Homo sapiens: one gene and its partners. The protein of the gene in region 1 purifies or fractionates together with the protein of each later gene. This does not show direct contact. Each region holds a gene or a part of one and is shown on either strand. Other genes may lie near its edges.

What was found.
Region 2: the proteins of SETD1B (region 1) and ZC3H3 purify together in Homo sapiens (affinity purification with mass spectrometry; one large-scale study listed by BioGRID and IntAct). This does not show direct contact.
Region 3: the proteins of SETD1B (region 1) and RBM26 purify together in Homo sapiens (affinity purification with mass spectrometry; one large-scale study listed by BioGRID and IntAct). This does not show direct contact.
Region 4: the proteins of SETD1B (region 1) and ZNF608 purify together in Homo sapiens (affinity purification with mass spectrometry, with the first as the bait; one large-scale study listed by BioGRID). This does not show direct contact.

The regions. Positions count from the first base shown.
Region 1 is NC_000012.12:121,827,641-121,830,582, reverse strand, and holds part of SETD1B (histone-lysine N-methyltransferase SETD1B), read right to left. Parts: coding exon 2,933-2,942; intron 2,849-2,932; coding exon 2,729-2,848; intron 2,651-2,728; coding exon 2,513-2,650; intron 518-2,512; coding exon 344-517; 3' UTR 1-343. UniProt on the Homo sapiens protein: Histone methyltransferase that catalyzes methyl group transfer from S-adenosyl-L-methionine to the epsilon-amino group of 'Lys-4' of histone H3 (H3K4) via a non-processive mechanism.
Region 2 is NC_000008.11:143,531,266-143,535,133, reverse strand, and holds part of ZC3H3 (zinc finger CCCH domain-containing protein 3), read left to right. Parts: intron 1-3,868. UniProt on the Homo sapiens protein: Required for the export of polyadenylated mRNAs from the nucleus. Enhances ACVR1B-induced SMAD-dependent transcription. Binds to single-stranded DNA but not to double-stranded DNA in vitro. Involved in RNA cleavage.
Region 3 is NC_000013.11:79,399,688-79,403,555, forward strand, and holds part of RBM26 (RNA-binding protein 26), read right to left. Parts: exon of another isoform or gene 3,342-3,868; intron 1-3,341. UniProt on the Homo sapiens protein: May be involved in the turnover of nuclear polyadenylated (pA+) RNA.
Region 4 is NC_000005.10:124,641,880-124,645,747, forward strand, and holds part of ZNF608 (zinc finger protein 608), read right to left. Parts: intron 2,783-3,868; coding exon 2,365-2,782; intron 1,805-2,364; coding exon 1,632-1,804; intron 1-1,631. UniProt on the Homo sapiens protein: Transcription factor, which represses ZNF609 transcription.

The DNA of each region.
Region 1 (2,942 bases):
AGGCCGAGGGTGATGGTGGGAGAGAGAAGAGACAGAGAAGAGAGAGAGGGGAGGAGAGACGGAGAGAGAGAAGCTGATGCTGGAGTTAAACAGAAATCCTGAAAGGGGCGTTTGTTAAAATGAGAGAGACGTGGGCTGAACGACAGAGAAGCCCTTTCCCGCGGAGGGGCCGGAGCCAGGGGCTCCAGGGGGTAGTGTGGGGCGCCAGGCCCTGAATGGCCGCTGGGTAGAGGACAGCACCTGAAATGGGGGCGGGCGCGGGGGGCCGGGCCCCGGGGCCAGGGGCTCCACGCTCGGGAGTCCCAGGGCTACGGCTGACATCCTTTGAGTCTGGTGCCGGGGCCTAGTTGAGGGTCCCCCGGCAGTTCTCGGAGCCACAGAGGCAGGGGATCTTGACGTCCTCGATGGGGAACTTATAGTCATAGGTAATCTCCTCATTGACGTTAATGTGCTGCTTCGAGTAGATGACTATCTTCTTCTGTGACTCCACCGTGATCACCTTGGCATAGCAGTTGGGCTGCAGGCAAGGTGGGGGGGAGAATGAGCCCCTGGTCCCCCAGGGTCCCCCACCACTGCAGACCCCCCAAACCCAACCAGGCCTGTGCTTAAGGCCTGACATGCCACGTGACCCCCAGCCCACTGCTCTGCTCTGGACCTTGGCTCCCCCGACCCCCAGGGGTGACCCCTTGCCTCTGATATTAAATAATGATGATAAAAATTATTTCCCAGGCCTTTCATTTCCATTCGTAGTACAAGTGCCTCCCAAATGTATGTCTATTTTTAGCTCAGGTCTCACTTCTGAGCTCTAAAAAAAGGGTCAGCAAACTATAGCCCCTAGCAGCCTGTTTTTGTAAATAAAGTTTTACTGGCACATAGCCATATCCATTCTCCCATTCATTTGCATATAATTTGTGGCTGCTTTTGTTACAATAGCCAAGTTCAGTAGTTGCCATAGAGATCATCTGAGCCACCAAGCCAAAAACATTTATTATCTGGCCCTTTACAGAAAAGGTAAAGGCCTCCAAGCCCATAAATGCAACTACCTGCTGTCTGCCAGTGGCAGCCCTGGGTACTGTCTTTGACTTAGCTCACACCTAAAGCATGATCTGCTCCTGCTCTGGGCAGCCGCTGCACCACACACCCAGGCCCCAGAGCATCTGCCTCCCTGCCTCCTTCAGTCCAGATCTGGCCCCAACCAGGGCCGGTGAGTTCAGTCCCGGAAGGGCCTCTTGGTTGTGTCTACTGCTCTCCACTTCTGGGGCCACCAGCCACGCTCAGGCCCCCATCACTGCTCACCCGCCTGCTACAGCCCCCTTGGCCACTCTCACCCCTGAAAAAATCCACTCCTGCCCCAGCAGCCAGGGAAACGTTTCCAAAGGGATAGCAGAACCTGTTGCCCGATGGCTCCAACCTTCCAGCGACCTTGGCTCTCAGAGAAACTTAGTTCCTCAGCTTGGCCACCCTCAGCCCTGCCCACCCCATCCTCTTACCCCACCCCATGCCCACTGCCTCCCTTGCTATCTCTCAAACAGGTGTTCTCCCAACTGCCCCAGGGCCTTTGAACACGCAGTTCCCCTTGCCCCAGCACCGCTTCCCCTGGGCAATTCCCTCTCACCCCTCAGATCTCCCCGGATATTCACAGGAAAGTCCCTACCACCCAGGCAAGGATCAAGTCACAACGAAGAGAGCCAGCAGGCGCTGAGGACTGGCCTGGCCAGCACTCAAATGGCCCACGTGCAGTGACCCACCTATGTGGCCCTCCCAACAACCTAAAAGGAGAGACTGTTATTGTCTCTGTTTTACAGACAAGGAAACTCAGGCATAAGAGACATTAAGTAACTCACTAAGCTGCAATGCCAAGACTTGAACCCAAAGTCAGGGGCATCCACCCCGGAACATGCCTGCCTCCTGCTCAGAGCTTCCTGTGCTCTTCCTTCAGCACTCAAATCCCTGTTATCAGTGTCCCTCCCCTCTAGGCCTGCACCACCCAATACAGTCGTCACAAGCTAATTAAGTTTAAATTCATCAAAATGAAATAAAATTTAAAACTCAGGTCCCCAGATGCACTGGGCACATTTCCAGTGCTCACCACCACACATGTGGCTAACCCACAGCACAGATGCACGCAGTGCACCTCCCCCTTGCAGAAAGTTCTAGTGGACAGCTCGGCCCGAGCAGGACTGAGCCTGACCAATGAAGGCACGGAGAAAAGGCTAACGCAGAGAAATAACTCCGAAATTACCAATGAACTGAACCAACCACTTCTTTGAGTCCTCTAAATGCCACAGAAGTCTCACTATGCCCATTTGACAGATGAGAAACTGAGGCTCAGAGGAGTAGAGCTCCTGGTAAAAGACCTCACATGTCCTCCTCTCCCTATAACCCTTGGCCAACCTGAGCTTGGGAAGGAGGCCGAGCTGATTCCCGTGCCGGGGCTTCCAGGCCCTCCTGGCACAGAAGCAGGGCCAGGGGCAGGAGCAGGGGCAGGGGCCACCCCCCGCTGGGCACTCACGTTGCAGCTGTGGTTGATGAAGCGCGCGAAGTTGCCGCACTTGGTGGCGTCGATGATGGTGTCATGGTCCACCCGGAACATGTAGCTGCTCCCGATGCCCTCGTCCTCATAACGCTTCTCCCGCATGTCTGCGATCACCTGGCCACAAAAGGGGGTCAGTCTGGCTGGGCCGGCCCCATGCCCACCCCGGTGCCCATCCTGCCGGGCGGTGCCTACCTGACGGATATTCTGGCCCACGTACTCGATGACCATCTCGTCAGCCGCGATGGGCTCCATGGCGAACAAGCCCCAGTCGTGAATGTGGCTCTTGCAGAACTTGAGCTTTTTCTTCCGGAACTGTGGGAGGGAAGAGGGGGAGAGGTGAGCCCCGGTCTCAGGTCCTGCCGCCACCCCGGCGATCTGGGTGAAGCCCGGCCTCACCTTGAGCTGG
Region 2 (3,868 bases), on another chromosome or scaffold:
CTGGGAGGTTGCAGTGAGCCGAGATCGTTCCATTGCATTCCAGTCTGGGCGACAGAACGAGACTCTGTCTCAAAAAAAAAAGAAACCCAGCCAAGCGTACCGTCATCTAGGGAGGCTTCAGACGGCTCTGGAAGGAGCTGGGCCTGGGCAGACCCAAGAGCCGTGTGGGGGCTGCCGCGGGAGGGCAGGGCGTTGGGTCCCAGGTGGAGGGCTGAATGGGGCGATGCAGCCGGGTGTTGCAGCACAGTGGGGTGGGAGGAAGTGGGGCTGGGGGCGCTGGTCGGCTGTACCCCGTTAGCCGACACCTGCTGCACGCCAGGACATGTGGATTTCATCCTGGTGACAGGGAGCAAGCAGAGACCCATGCGGTCCCTGGTGGCCACAGTGAGGTGGCCGGATGGTGGTTAGGTCGTGGGCTTATCTGGGAGTGGATGGTAGGGGTGGCTTGGACAGTTGGCGGTATCCCCTGGTCACTTGGGGAGGAGGGGTTGGGGAGGTGTCCAGCTCTGGGAGGCCAGCAGGGTCTGCTGAGCCCTAGGAGGCCAAGGCTTGCAGATGGCGTGGTGGTTGGGGTGAGAGGCTCCCCACTGGGTGCAGGTTCAGCCCTGCTCACCTGGCCTGCTCCCTCTTCAGGCCTCTAGTAGAGTGGGGCATAGGCAGGGGATGGGGGAGGTTGCTTCCTGCTGGTGGGGCCTTGCTCGGCGCCCCCCGGACTCCTGCCAGGAAGAGTGGGTTTGGGAGGCCACCAGCTTCACCGGCTGACCATTTCGGAGTGCACAGCTGAGGGGCTGCTGCGGTCCTGCCTCACTAGAGGGAAGGGCGTAATTGATCTCGTCGTTTTTTTTTTTTTTTTTAATGTTTTTAGAAACAGGGCCCTGCTTCCCTCCCAGGCCAGAGTACAGTGGTGCAGTCACAGCTCATTGCAGCCTCAACCTCCTGGGCTCAAGTGACCCTGCTGAATAGCTGGGACTACAGGTGCATGTCACTGTGCCTGGCTAATTTTTAATTTTTTTGTAGGGACAGGGTCTTGCTTTGTTGCCTAGGCTGGTCTTGAACTTCTGGGCTCAAGTGATCCTCCTGCCTTAGTCTCTTAAAGTGCTGGGATTACAGGTGTGAGCCACTGTGCCCAGCCAAACTCATAGTTAAAGACCAACGTGAGGCTGGGCGTGGTGGCTCATGCCTGTAATCCCAGCACACTGGGAGGCCGAGGCGGGTGGATCACCTGAGGTCAGGAGTTCAAGACCAGCCTTGGCAACATGGCAAAACCCCGTCTCTACTAAAAATACAAAAATTAGCTGGGTGTGGTGGCGAGCGTCTGTAATCCCATCTACTCGGGAGGCTGAGGCAGGAGAATCACTTGAACCCAGGAGGCAGAGGTTAGATCGTGCCATTGTACTCCAGCCTGGGCGACAGAGTGACATTTTGTCTCAAAAAAAAAAAAAAAAAAAGACCAGCGTGGCGGCTGCATGGAGTGAGAGGAGAGGGTCCTGTCTGAGGAAGGGGTGGGGAAGGCGTCCCACTCACTTGCCCACCACTGGCCCAACTGGCAAGCGTGGTTGAGTCACTGTGCCTGGCAGCCTGCCGGCTCCTGGGGATACTGCAGTGAAGGTGAAGAGATGATGAGGCTGGAGCCGCCTTCCAGTGGTGGAGACAGGCAGCCACTGGAGTGCTTGTACATCAGCCAGGAAGGTGCTCCTGGGTGGAAAATGCCTTCTGAGGAACAGGCAGGGGGAGAGCACAGGGCCAGCTGCAGAGAGGTGGTTGGCGAGTGGGAGGGCTTCTCTGAGGAGGTGACCTGAGCAGAGAGGAGCGAATAGGGCTCAGCTCTGAGGCCGAGGTGGAGGTGGGAACGAGCTTACTGTGTTCTGGAGCACAAGGAGGCTGTGGGGCCAGTTCACCATCTGGGAGTGTGGCTTGGAGGGGATGCAGCCAACGGGGCAGAGGGACCAGGTCCTGGGAAAGGGTCTTGTAGGCCACAGGAGGGAACGGGGGGTTGGTTCTGGTTACGTTGGGAAGCCAGGGAGGGACAGGGGAGGACCCTGGGAGGGGCGTGTCCAGGGCCCCGGGGTGTCTGGCAGGCCCGAGTGGGCAGAGTCGGGAGGACCTGTGCGTGAGGCCACTGACGCCAGGCCAAGGAGCGGAGTCCGCAGGCTCTCAAGCAGGCAGGGAGCCCGTGGAGATGTGCGCGGAGGTGAGAGGCCGAGCCTGCGTCCTGGCCTGGTCACTCAGGCGGCTGACCCCAGAGACAGCCACCGTGAGACTCCAAGCTGGCCGCAGGGGAGGTGGGCGTGGCCAGGGCGTCTGCTGAGGAGATGGGAGGCTGGGGCCCAGGAAGCTGTTGAGTGGCTCCCCCAGGTGCCCTCCTGCAAGGCCCACCGTCTCCATGCCTGCCTGCCTGCCTAGGAACTGAGGCCTGCCTGTCCTCTGCCTTGGCCAGTGGGCTTCTGGGCAGGGCCCAGCTTTGTTTCGTTGAACGCTGCAGTGCTCTGGTGAGCCAGTGAGCCCTTCCCAGGCCCTCCTTCAGCCCTCCCGGGTGGCCAAGGCCTCCATCGGCTGGGGTGTTCGTTCCTGGATGCTGGGGTCGTGTGGGCTGTGGATGGGGCAGCCAGGTGGGACTGCTCCTTCATTTGGCTGTTGGGAGTTTTCTTTCCCCATTTTCTGCCCAGCAAAAGCTTAGTTCCAGCTCCACCTCTCCTCTTCAAGGAGACGGCAGTGTCCCAGTGTCCAGCTGGGGACGACTGCCCTGTGGACTTATGCACCAGGGACAGGGGCTTCTGAAAGCTGCCAGGCAGCCCTGCTGCCGCCTCCCTCCCCCGCCGCACTTCAGCCTTGCCGTGCGGCCCAGTGGCCAGCAGAGGGCATGCTTGCCCCTCCTATCGCCTCCGTCCACCCTTTTTTGGTAATCGCGTAATTTCCTTTTTATGTGAAAGAAAGCAGATACCAAGTAATTTGCAGCAATAACCTGCTAATGCTGGGCCAGTATCGAAACTCCCCTGTTCATTTCAAGTGGCAGATAAAACGCTAATACATAATTATCCTTGCAAATTGGATTATTTTAAATAACCAAAAGGCTACGGCCAGGAGAAAGCGATCCCATCTCCCCTGAGTTACTATTGCAGCGTAATTGCCGCGTTCAATCAATTTCCCTGGCATTAGAAATTCCGTCACAATCAACATTAAGCTTTATTCATTGTGATGGCTAAGAGCCGGGCCATTTCTCCTCTTTTTCTTAACTGGCAAAATTAATCAGGGAAAAGATTTTAAACATTTACCCGTGCGAAAGAGGTCAGCCCTGCCACTATATTGCTCAGCAGATAAGGGGGCTAATAAAAAGAAAATTGAATTACTAATGATCACCAAGAACAGAGTATATAAAACCTGGCCATCGCCAGTTCAGGAAAAGGGAGAATCAATTTTCTTGGGACAAGGTGCGTTCATTTTTTATTTTGGCGCATATTATCAGCAATTTAATTTGAGAGGCATAAACAGGAGGAAACAGTTAGGGAATAATGAGCCTGGAGGTGTAAAGTGCCACAGGATATATGCTGTACACAATTTATTTGGCACAACAGATAATCGCTTTAATTGAATTCAAAAGTGCATTGTTCAGCAGCACTGTGGCCGCTCACGCCTGGGGACTGAGACTGTTTGGAAGGTTTCAGCCTGACTCTTCGGTGCCTCTCCTCCCCTCCCTGCCTCTCCCGGCCCTCCGAAGTCCTCTGGGCCTGGAGTCAGACCTCGGCTGGGGGCGGGGCAGGGGATTCCTGGGGGTCTCTTCCTCTGCTGTCAGTGTGCCCCTTGCCTTCCGTTTCTTCCTTCCCTTTTCTCCTGGGGATGGGTCTGTTGGCAGCTGGGGGATGAGGATGTG
Region 3 (3,868 bases), on another chromosome or scaffold:
TAGAGATAAAAACAGATTTGTTAGGAAGCAAACTGCAATCATTTAGATACGGAGTGTGAGCCCCCTACTAAGCAATGTCAGTAAGGATTATTAAGAGAGAACCTCATGACTAAGTGAATGGGAGGAAGGAGAAGCCAAAAAATTTCAAGCCAGCATAATTTGGAGAAATGAAATTAAAATAAGTGAATCCAGAAAACACTTCTTTTCAGAAATTAGTTTGAAGTTTAGATGAGCGATCCAAGCAGATATACAGCCAGCAATTAGAGATAAAAGCTTAAGACTGTGAAGAGTGGTTAAGTCTAAACATACTTATGTGAAAATAAATGCAGAGTAGAGGTTCTAGTTTGGAATCCATTAACAAGCTCAGAGTGAAAAGCTCTGAAATTCAATGCAAATGTGTATGTATTTGTAAATCCTAGGGAGACAGTCTTTAATCAGACTTTAAAGGATCTACAATATACACTCCAAAAAAAGTTTTTAAGAACCACTGGCATGTATTACAAAGAAAACCATTCATGGGAAAGGTCTTAGTCCGTTTGTGCTGCTATAACAGAATACCACAAGATGGGTAATTTATAAAGAAATTTATTGGCTCACAGTTCTGGAGGCTGGGAAGTCTCATATCAAGGTACTGGCAGGTTTGGCAATTCTGATTCCAAGATAGACCTTGAACACTGCATCCTCCGGAGTTCCTCCCATGGCAGAAGTCAGAGGTCTCCCATAGCAGAAGTCAGAGGGGCAGAGGCAAAACCTAACCTTTTATAAAGGCATTAATCCAATCAACAAAGGCAGAGCCCTCGTGACCTAATCACCTCTTAATACTTAACGAAATTAAATTTCAACATGAATTCTGGAGAAGACAAACATTCAAATCTTAGCAGTAATTAATGAAATGTCAGAAGTAAAAAATGGATGAAGAAAAAAATGTCAATGTAACAACACTGAAAAATACAATTAGAATCTGAAGAAAAGGAACAAAAGAGGGTAAGACTGACTTAAGAAAAGGAACCAACACATTAGGGATTCAAGGCAAGTAAGTTAAAAAGGTGGCATCAACACTGATGTTATACACGCATAGGGCAAAAAATATAAAACTTCAGGCAATAAATATAAATTGATTGGTAACACTGAGGTAAGTAATTTTGGTTGTAATTATATTACAACGAAGAAATTCTATTCCAAGACATTAAGAAGTAAATGGCTGAGGGCAAATTAACAAAAAATTAAAAGTCTGACTACTACTTCAAGATTTACCAGCGACAGGAACAGAAAGCTAGCAAGAAAGTGACTAGAAGCGTTTTATCTTTTGTTTTGTTTTTTGCTATTATTGCTGAGTTTTTCCTAAAGAATGGGAAATGGACTTACTATGCCAAAAGAAGCCAACTGAAAAGGAAAGGTCAAAGGAATCAAAAATACTCAAAAGTTCAGGAGTAAAAAGATCATTTAGCCAACCCAAAAGAATAACTCTTCCTATCAGACACGAACAAAAATAAATTTTAATGTGGTGAGAAAGGTGTAGTAACAAGTACAGGTGAAGGGGAAAAATACTACAAAAACCACAAAGATGTTTATTTCTTAAACTCTAAAGCACTGATAATCACGATGCTTTAGAACTTTGTTCTTTTACAATAGTAGCCAATACTATCAAAATGTCATAGTAAAAAAGTATATGCAGTAACAGAAAACACTAGGATGCTGCATTCTGTAGTAGTAAATTAAGAATATGCACACAGCTCTAGAGTCAAAAAGCCTTAGTTTAAATCACTGTGGGCAAATAACTTCATGCTTCAGTGCCTCAGTATCATCACCTGCAAAATGGAGAGATAACAATGCTTACCTCATAAAACTTGTAAGTACAATAATACAAAATGTTTAACAACAATGCATACAGTTTAGGTGGTAGTCACAGCAGGAGTGTTGGTGATAATTCTAACAGTAGCAACAGTAGTAATGTAGCCTATCTGTGTTTAATCAACCAATATCTAAGAAAGGAGGGGAAGGGCAAGGCTCACAAACATGTGTCCCATTCAACCCTTTCAACTATAGATGGAAATACTGTAATTCTTCCTATTATACCAATAAGGAAAGAGGAGGTTTCTTTGCCTAGACAGCTAATAAATGGCAGAAGTGAGATTTGAATACTGATCTGGACACAGAGATCTTCCTTCCACCACACACTTCCTCCACAGCACTACACAGTGGCAGAAGCACAACACTAGGCATTTTGTTCTTTACTACTCAACTCACAAAACCTCAGTACGTCATTACATCCACCTGCCCCTCAATTTTATTTTCTAAAAAATTAAAGTTTCATTAGATGTTTAGGTGTCTCTTCAGGAAAAAAAAAAAAACATGACTTTGATGTGTAAGTCCACCTAAAAGTTTTAAATACAGTAGAAAGTGTTTTCTGTTTTTTTTGTTTGTTTAAAAGTTTACTACAACAAAGGAGCTTAATTTTTTTTTCAGGACTTCTCATCATCAAAACGAAATGTTAGAAAAAAGACTAACATTTAGTTTCATATTATTGGCAAGTATGACTAAGCAAATCTTTGAGATAACAAAACATCAATCTTAAGCATTTCAAGATGACAATTTTAATAAAGTTCAAAATTCTCAATTTATGAAAAAGACATTGAAAATTATTTTCAATAATTTATGAAACTCAGAACCCTGATACATGTACAGAAGTTATGAAACAGTAAATACAGATATGCAGACTTCTATTTCACGCTGAAAACACAGCCAGGCTTTTTTTTTTTTTTTTAAACATCCATCTGAAAACCCTCTTGCCCTAAAACCCTTCACTGGCTTCCCACTATCCTTCAATAACATCCAAAGTCTTAAACATGACTCAACAAAGTCCTGTGTGATCTGGCTCCTATCTCTGGAGCTTTCCACTGCCATTCTTCTCCTTTGCTTTTTTCTATTTCTTTCAATTCCTCCAACATATCTTTTTTGTCCATTTTTAGGACCTCCATACAATCTGTTCACCAAACCTATAACGCTTTCACAGGTCTCCAATCCCATCCTTTTGCCCCAGCAAAGTATTCTTCATCCTTCCAAGCTGAGATAAACATTACACCAGGGAAGTGTTTCCTGATGTTCCCAGACTTCAACACCTATCTTTCCTGCTAAATGGTAAATAAAATGAAGTGAGTCATTTCATGTCTTGTTACCTACTATATCTTGCACACTGCTTAGCACAGAGTAGGTTAAGTACTCTTAAAATAAATGTTTGCTGAATTAACACATTCAAAATGTGGAGTAAGTCCAAAACCATGAAGTATTTAACCACCACAGGTAACTAAAAAGTTTTATGTAAGTTTCAAGTTACAGCTTACCCTTGGTCCTCTGTATGTTCCTCTCTCAAACAGAGGTCGTTTGGTAATTACAATGTTAAAGCAAAAAAAAAAAAAAATTCCTTTTAGATAACAGATCATAACATTTCACAAAACCAACGTTAGAAACCACTGATCCATAATTGGGATCAGCTTTTATAAGTCATCATACAAAAGAATCCACCTGAAATGCAATTAAAAGGACAAGAACTTGAATAAGGGCTCAATTTTACCACAGCTACACACATTAGAAAAGGACCAATTACAATTCCCAGTGTCTAGGCTCTACTAGCAGAGCCTTATTTATTACAACATAATGACTGCAGTGCTACAGCCATCGAGAGTAGGCTTTATGATACATGGAATATGTTTCATTAAGACTAAAGAAAAATTACAAGCATACACTCTAAGTAGCTACAGTCTTCTCATTTAGGTAAGATGGAGGGATACGGCAGTAAATCTAATATGAAACTGAACGCTTAAAGGAAAGCTATTTCAATCCAAAACATTTATAAGTTTTGTATTCACCT
Region 4 (3,868 bases), on another chromosome or scaffold:
ATAAAGCACAAGAAATCACTGTCCTACACCCACATTTTGAATCTCTCAATTTTTGAACTCTCAAAGAGAAGGCCCCATCCTCCCAAACCATAGTTTGGGGTAAGGATGGTTCATTTCCTATGACTTTCTACCTTTACAGCCTAACCACCCTTTAACTAAAGTTATACTTCTCACTTAAAAGAAATCCTTGTACTAAGAAGGAGGACTCAGAAAAAGATTCAGAAATCCCCTTTTCTGGTTTCTCTATAGAGTTTCTGGTAGACTCACACACATTGCAGATACTATTATTTTAATTTACTTTAAACTCTTTCCTAGCCAAGCACCATCCTATTTTTGTTTAGTCTCTCTTCACAACAGTCTCTAGGACTAGAGCAGTCACCTTTTTTGGGGAAGAGCCATCTTTCACAGACATTGTATTACTTCAGCAGAGTTAAAGGGACATGACAAAGAGTCAAGGCCAGAAAACAGCAGACACAGCTCTCACTCCTAAGCCACATGACTTACTCTTGCAAATGAGCCTCACACTGTACAAGGCTCAAATTTGTGCCTTATTACATGTCACGGGCACTCAGCTTTGCTCGTGATGAACCCCCAACCATGAACACTGATGATGTGAATATGAAGGGTCAATACAAGTAGCAGAAACCTCAAATCTCTCCAGAAGTCAAGTTAACAACAAAGATAAGTGATGCAGATTAGGGAGCTTCTATTTATATCCATGCACATTGATGGGGAGCAGCACATCTGCCTAGATGGGGCTACTAGTTCCCATCAGTTACTGCCATGTCATTTTGAACCAGATTTTCTATTGTCTTTTTTTTTTTTTTTTTTTTTTTTGAGACAGAGCCTTGCTCTGTCGCCCACGCTAGAGTGCAGTGGCACAATCTCTGCTCACTGCAACCTCTGCCTCTCGGGCTCAAGCAAATCTCCTGCCTCAGCCTTCTGAGTAACTTGGATTACAGGTGCCCACTACCACTAGGCTACTTTTTGTATTTTTAGTAGAGACGGAGTTTCACCATATTGGCCAGGCTGGTCTCGAATTCCTGACCTCAGGTGATCTGCCCGCCTCGGCCTCCCAAAGTGCTGGGATTACAGGCAGTGGCTCACTCCCGGCCCAGATTTTCTATTGTCTTAAGAGAAAGAGGTGATCTGAACTTGCATGTAAAATGTCTGATTTTTAAAAGGTATCCTGCAAGAAAACATTTTTTGAAAAGCTTGATTTGCCCAAAAAGTCAACAGTTTGTAGCCTCTGAACTACTTACTTACCAAAATTATATAAAATATACTCCTCTGTTACCTAATTCCTCAATGTCTTATCAAACATATTTTGCACCAAAAGTTGGTTCCTATGAATTTAAATTTCCACCTAACAACCATCCTCCTGGGTAAGCAAGGTATACTAGATTTTGCAACAGAAAAGCTTGCTACTGCCATACGTGCTTTAACAATTTTCTCTCATGTGTGAAAGCGTCTTACTTTTGAACGCTCCATTCTTTACGTATTAGGATAAAACAGCATCCTGAAATCACAGCTGGGTTCCGAAACCATTTATATTTCAAGACTGTTCTCTAGCTTGTTCCCCTTTCTCCCCAAATCACAGTACTTTTAAATAACAACAAAAGGAGGCTTACAGCAGGAGACTTGCTGCGGTATTGGTTAGCATGCTGCTGGAGCAAATCCAGTGCTTTAGATTCAGTGGTTGTTTTCGTGTTGACGCTAGGGCTGGTATTGACTTTCTCTGTCTCTTCTCTCCCTGACATCTTCCCATAAACAGGATAATGAAATCCTGGAGAGAGATATGCCCCTGCAGATAAACAACAAATGCCACATCAAGTTACAGGCTATATCTTTAAAAAAAATCATTTGGGTTACATGAATTTGGGATAAGAGTCAAAGAGATCTTAAAATAGGGGGTTACATTAAGAATGGGCTACATCATCATTAAACTGTGTCTAGCTTCTCCAATTTTCTTCTCCCAGTTAATTCATCCTGATGAAGGGAGGTTATAAACAGAATTGAGCTTATAGCCATTTCATACATTTACGTGTCCGCTTAAGTGAAAGGAATAGTAACTATAATGATTATGACAGTAAGTGCTTAGAATATTTTTATAGGCAATAAAGTATCTGTCAGCCTAACAGCTATAGCAGACCATCAGAGACTATGGAAACTATGGCTGAGGATTCTTGACATTTCATTAAAAAAACTTATATTAAATCAGTTTTATCTTTGGGACTTTAAACAGCATAAAAACAAGGAAAACAAATGTCACTCTTGAAGCTTCTAATTTATCTTGAGTTTTTAACAGCTAATATTTGAACATCGCCTCTTTCCTCCAATATAGTCAGAACCGACAACACGTACCAGGATAACTGTGCATTAGGACGGGAGAAACAGCCCGGTATGCAGGATGGCTGGGGTCGTACATCTGTGGGTAAGGATAAGCATGCAAGTACTGTATGTATGACTGATGCTGACTCATGGGTGAGGAGACAGCCACTCTTGTTCCCCGAGAGTCCTTCCAGTTCACAGGAGTCTTTCGATCATCATTTTTCAGCTTGCTCTCCTCCATTGATTGAGAATCAGGATGCTTGGCCTCTTTGGGCTCCTCTTTAATGCTTGTTAACGATACAGGAAGGCTGGGCACACCACTCTCTTTATTAGGAGTTTTCCTCGGACTATCCTCTTTTAATTTCTTCTCTCTATCAAGTTCTTCTGACTTTTGCTGATCCAGATATTTGGGCTGGTATACATAATGATGCCATGTTCTTGAATCTGGGTCCTGATTTTTTTGTTTTAAAGAAAAAAAACCCAACAGATTTGTTTTAAAATTTCAATTTTAAAGAAAACTTGTTAATAATCATGACAGCACTAGCACTCTTAATTTTAATGCTAAGTTGACATTTATTTCTGTGCTAGACACTGTGCTAATTGCTTTACCTCCTTCTCTTACAAAGTAATAATGTCCCAGGTAGGCATTATTACTGATCCCCTGTACAGAAGATAAAACCAAAGTGTTTAAAGTTCAGGCAACATCAAGGTCATGCTGCTGCCCAGTCGTGGAGCTGGGCTTCAAACTCAGGTCTGCTGAAATTCAGAGCTGGGCCCTTAATGTCATTTCTCAACACTAAATAACATCCTCAGACATATTTAATTCTGTCTTCGTTTGCCTTTTAATATCTCACACAGGTGAAAAGAATGTTAAAAACTCCAACTCAAGCTAATAATAGTAAATTTAAGTAATTGCTATAGCTATTAACATCACTTAGGAGGAAAAACTCTTGGTTTCCTAATACATTTTCCTCATCTACTGCAGCTGAGGCTTAATATATTGGCTCACTTCTCATTACGTGTTAACATCTTAATCAAAACAAAATTTCAAATTAATAGCACACGTTATGGCTTCTCTATTGGAAAACAAAGCCATCTATCTATAAACCCCCAAAATTATATAAATCTTCTGCAGCCCTGTGAATTGACAGCCTGATTTATGCCTCTGTAAGTGGGGAAACTGAGAATCCTAAATGGCCTTTGTGATCCCCATCCCATTCATGATATAAACCCACTGGGGATTCAGGTTCTCAGAGAACATGCAAAGTTGTGCCTAAGTAAATGTGTGTGTGTGGGTGGCGGTGGTGGGGGCTGGTGGTTCTTGCTCTAATGCACCAGGGATTATCTAAGCATGGGGGTGAGGGTGGGAGTGGGGATGTGCAGTGCTGGGAAATAACCAGGATTAATGCTCACGGGGTTGCAGTGGGTCAGGATGTCTGAACCATGACAGAAGGTGCTAGTACATTTGTGGTTTCGTGGTGACCAATTTTCAGGTGTTCTCAAGCTGACTGACCCATGGGGCTCTGGGACAGCTGTT